Regions from separate parts of the Homo sapiens genome. Here region 1 is linked to region 2. Evidence: fine-mapped expression QTL. Tissue or cell type: tibial nerve. Region 2 holds a variant in brackets; the other region holds the start of a gene. All regions are shown on one strand. Distances are between the middles of the regions.

Region 1 (2,605 bases), 48 kb after region 2:
GATTCGACCACATTCAATCTCTGGGCTTGAGAATGTCATCTAACTTCTCTTAGCCTATTTCCTCACATCCAAAAGGAATAACAGTTCCCACTTCAAAGTGTTGTTTCGTGGCTCAAATGAAATAATGCATGTGAAAGAGTTTAATATGCTACAAGACACTGTAATATAACATAATATTAAAGTTACAAACCAAATGTGGTGGCAGTGTGGTTCAATGAGGAAAACGCAGATATAGTCTAGCATAAAGAGGAATCAGCATGGCTGAATGCTTTACCCACTCATGACCCTGGGTGAGTCTGGCCTGGGTTCCCTCATTTGAGAAGTGAGAATGATTAAAACGATCCCATCAGGACGATGTGGGGATTAGAAATAATATGTGTCAGGCCTCTAGCAGGGCGAGCACACAGTAGGTATTCAGTAAGTGGCACCCGTTTTACATTAAAGAATTCATTTAATCAAGCCAAGTATGCTACATGTTTCAACACTCACAACAGCTGAGTACTGTTCAACTTAGAACAGTACATCCATCGGTGGAGTCCCAAATATACTTCTGCCATGGCCAGCGCCCTGGGTTTATCCCACTTTAGACTCCAGTGGATTAAGGCTGTGCTTGCTGTATTCGCATTTCCTGCCTTAGCCCATCATTTCAGGAAACTTACTAATGGAGCCTCAGTTTAAAACATAAAATGAATGCTACTCAATGTGGCAACTCCAAGTACAGGCTTTCTCCTCTCCTGCTTTCACTAGATGAACTTAATTCACTTTTTGCCACTTGTTTAAGGACAGGGGTGGGGTCTGGGTAACAGGATAAGGAAAAAGCCCGAATGAATCCGCTGTTGTTATTGAGGCTGTTCAGTCTGACCAAAATAAGCAGCTTTTGAAATGAACTCCCCAGCTCCAGAGCGTCAGAGTCAGGCCCCGTGGAGGCGCTGGGAGCCGCGAGCAGGAGAGGGGCAGGAGCCCTATCGCGTCCAGCCCTGCCCCGCCCGGGAAAACCCAGTGCCCCACGCATCAGTCACCGAGCAGAGCGCGAGTTAGAAGAGTGAACCCGGGGAAGGGCACATGCAGCTGGGTTAGTCTCAACTCGACCATGCGACTTCGCATTCCTGTTTGGCAAACGCGCTTAGGCAAAACAGACTTGATGCTTACAATGATCCCAGCCCAAAATGGAGTGTCCCTGACTAGCAGGGAGGAGCTGATGCTCGCCATGAGGAAGCCCACCACGGTCACGGCGATGCCCAGGGCCAGCTGCAGCAGGGCGAGCAGCAGCGGGAACCGGCAGCCGCAGCAGGTCCGGGGCTCCTCCTCCCCGCACTCCTTGGGGGCCCCCGTGCCCTTCTTCGGCTCCATGTCGTCGGGCCCAGCGGCGTCCGCGGCCGGCGGGCCCCCCTGCCTCTGCTGGCCGCGTGGCTGCTTGTTCTTGCCCATGGCGCTGCGAGGCTGGGTGGGTGGGTGGGTGCGTGTGCGGCGCCCTGGGCCCTGGAGCGCGGCGCACGGCTGGCTCGGCCTGCCCTGGTATTCGAATTATGGAGGCTGAACAAATATGGAAAACATTTGGAGCCGACTCACCGAGCCTCCAAAGGCCACGGGGAGCCCGCAGCAGAGGGGGGATTCGAGGGGGGTCGCCAACTGCCAACGCGCCGGGACGCAGCGCCTGCCGGGCCCCGGGCAGGATTTGCAGGTCGCCCGCGGAAACCGGCGCGGGTCCCTTGGCCGCCTGAACCTCTGCACTTCAGACAGGCTGCGAGTGCGCGCGTGTGCGAGTGCGGGGCGTCTGTTTTCCTCACTCAAAACTCCAGGATTGTTTTGGTTTTGCTTTCTGTGAAGTGCAATGCAAGGTGATGAATGTTGAAATCGTTTGAGCTTAATTAATACACAGTTTAATCCAAAATAGGCACTGCTGGGCTCTAAGCTGCGAAGTCATTTCCAGAAGTTAAGTCGTTGTTACTTTCCTACAGAGGCACAGGCTCTTTTCTTCCTACTTTCTGTAATCCAGCTGACAAATGAATAAAGGCATTTTTCGCATTTAGGTGTTTTTGAATCTTTCTAAAGATATTGGACTAATTGTGAACTCTCTTTCACATATGTTATTAATTATTATTATTATTTTCCAAACAGGGGCTCACTGTGTTGCCCAGGCTGGAGTGCATTGTCACCATCCTAGCTCACTGCAGCCTCAGACTCCTGGACTCAACAGCTTCTCTCTCCTCAGTCTCCAAGTGGCTGGGACTACAGGCAATCACCACCACATCTGGCTAATTTTTTAAAATTTTTTTCATAGAGATGGGATCTCATTATGTTGTCCAAACTGGTCTTGAACTCCTGGCTTCAAGGGATCCTGCTGCTTCAGCTTCCCAAAGTGCTGGAATTACAGGCGTGAGCCACCATGCACCCGGCCTCTCACGTGTATTTGTTTTTAAAAGCTCTGTTGGCTCACGCCTGTAATCCCAACACTTTGGGAGGCCGAGGTGGGCGGATCACAAGGTCAGGAGTTCAAGACTAGCCTGGCCAACATGGTGAAACCCCGTCTCCACTAAAACTACAAAAATTAGACAGGCGTGGTGGCACGCACCTGTAGTCTCAGCTACTCGGGAGGCTGAGGCAG
Region 2 (2,762 bases):
GGATTCCTCGCGCTCTCATCAAGCTGTAACTCTAGTGTTCCTGAGCACCTAGTCAAGTATAATAAAATAATTCCCCTCCTCTTCCATCTCTAGCCCATATTTTCAGATTCAAAGATGAGCTGGGAAACAGGGTTGATAACAGGTAATGATAATGATAAGCACAGATTGCGCCCTTAGAATGTTCCAGGCACTCTTCCCAGCGCATTACAGAGACAAACCCATGTATGCCTCACAATGACCCTATGAGATGGGTGCTCTTATTACCCCCGTTTTATGGATGAGGGAACGAACTTGGGTATAGAGTAGTTGAGGAATTTGTCCACGTATATATATAGCTAGTAAATGGTAGCAAAACCTAGGCTTGGACACGAGGCAATATGACTGGTCTCAAGTCTGTTTTTAACCACTGAACCACACTGTGGCAGGCGGGCAGCTTCCTCGGGGATTGCAGTCGCCAGTGTTACATAATCAACACCAAGGGCTCATTCTTAAGGAAAGAGGCTGTTTGGTCTGCCCCTTACTGTTTTCTAGTCACGCTTACAGCTACCCTTCTTCAAATAGGTCTTGGGTCCCCCACATCACCTTTTCCCTTTCTTCATTCTCGGAGAATATGAGTAACTTCCATTTTATTTACTTCTTTTATTCTAAAAAATAAATATAGAAGAAAAATCCTGGGTATATTAGCAAAATAAATGTCAACATTTTGCCCTGTCCCAGAAAAAAAGAAAAAATAATGAGTTATTGCCTAATATCCTTGAGAATACTGGGCAGGGGTTTCAAACCTGTTGAAATTAGGGTTTATACATTTGCAGATCCCAATCAAATAGGAAAAAGAAGATAAATCATAAGACAAAGAGTAAAGGGGGGAAAAGGAGGGGGAGAAAAACATATGCCAGTTTTAAGCCAAGAGTTTATGTTAATAAGAAAAAGAGTTGAGGTGAGTGAGCCTAAACGAGTCATCTAACCTCATCTGGCCTCAGTTTGCTTTTCTGTAAAATACACAAGCTGGACTGGAAGGAATCTGTCCAGCCCTAACATAGTGATTTTAAGATAAGAAGTAACTGCAAAGGTGATCGAATTGGGAGTAAACTAAAAGAGGTTGTAATGATATTTCCTTTTCCCTTTTCATACTTTTCCTTATTACAGGAAAACAAGTATAATAGATAACTTTTGACTACAAGTAACAAGACCTAAAATTAAGGGCAGAAGATTTTAATATATTATAATAAATAGGTAACATTTGACTCTAAGTAACAAGACCTAAA[CTAAAG/G]AGCAGAAGATTTCTCACCTTTGCTAATGTCAAGGGCCATGACTGCACTGGGACAACAATGCCCAGAGGTAGAGTGTGGATGAGGGTATAATCTGGGGGTGGAAGAAGAGAAGTATCCCTCAAAAGTACACTAAAATCCAGTAATTTCATAAAAACCCCACCTGAAGCCTAATTCCTCTTACAAAAGAGTCCATGACCTTCAATAAATCCTAAGTTTGCCAGAACACAGCGTGAAAACCTTAGTGCCTATCTTTAAGTACCTCACATGTTCATTCACTCTGACCTTCAACTCTTTTTCATCCAGAAACTCTTTTGTGTTATACGAGGAATGAATGCAAAGCTCTGTGGGCAGCTATCCAAGGGTTTCCATGCTGACGTCTCCTTGGTCCCTCACCCTAGTTTTGTTTCTTCTTCCTCTGCATGAAAGAAAAGCAGAGAAAGAGTGAACTTGGAGTAGGAGGGGAGGTGGCTTGGGGTCAAGCGTCGTGTTGGCTATGCCCTTCTTTTGACCTCATAGATCCACTACTTTTGGAGCAATGACTGTGGCTTGGAGTGTTTGTTCATGGTCTGATCAGATCCTGTGACATTTCTCCCAAAGGCAGGAAGGCATCTCTCCCCCAGCAAGATTGTTTGGTCCTGTCTATATTTCATGTCTATTTTTAATTCACCAGGAGGCTACAAATCTAAATCTCATCTATCTTAGCTCTTAAGGGTACCCAAAATGACAATTTATAGAACTCTACATTTAGGTTTGAACAGAATAGCCTTGCATTTTAAGCCCACTTCTGACACCACCCCATGGAGCCTGGGGCAGGCAATGTGGCCTGGTAAGAACAGCTTTGGAAAAGGCCCCTGAAGGTGTTGTTTCTTGGATTCCAGGGCTGACCTTGACTGTCTGGACATGAATCTATAAAATTTGAGGAAACCAGTTTGCTCTGCACCTTCCTACTGTCACACAAAAGTCCCTACCAGGGCTTTGCCAAAGTCCAGCTCTTATATGGAACCTGAGTTACTACTGGTGCTGGGCAGGGCTCAGGGACAGAGCTTAATGGAGGGGCAGGAAGAAAATAACTTGGCCAGCTGCATTGAAGAAAGTAGTCATATATATCTGTGCAAACACTTAATTCATAAAACCTACCAGAGTCTCAAAAACAAAGATGGTGGGATTTTCCTTTCCAAAGTACACTGCTCATTACCCTAAGCTTTTGTTACTTTTTTACTCCCTGAAAGGTTGTATAAGGTATTTCTTATAATCTAAAGTTACCTGCAGTTATGGAAGTAGGGGAGTGGCCAATGGGATGGCTCTGGGCTCTAAAAGTCTTATTCTGTCCCTAGCATCATTCTCCCAGGTCAGTGAGCCTCAGGATTCCTAGATGCCAGGACTTGGAAGCCTGACCCAGTTTGCCCATGGAGTACAGATTATGGCTTGGGAACAAACACAAGAAAATCTTCTCTGTTGCACTTTCTAATGTTTGCAGAGGGCAGAGGGATT

What was found. PIP is the estimated chance that this variant, and not a neighbour inherited with it, causes the effect.
Region 1: SSPN starts here. The variant in region 2 is fine-mapped to the expression of SSPN in tibial nerve (GTEx, PIP 0.98).

The regions. Positions count from the first base shown.
Region 1 is chr12:26,194,496-26,197,100 of GRCh38, reverse strand. It overlaps SSPN (sarcospan), which reads right to left and starts at 1,528. Exons shown (of 3, transcript NM_005086.5): 1 at 1,150-1,528. The coding sequence starts at 1,428.
Region 2 is chr12:26,242,368-26,245,129 of GRCh38, reverse strand. All of the region lies in intron 1 of SSPN-AS1 (SSPN antisense RNA 1), which reads left to right. Among named protein-coding and RNA genes, the nearest start is that of SSPN-AS1, 28 kb to the left of the region's middle. The variant CTAAAG/G (reference allele first, on the strand shown) is at 1,266.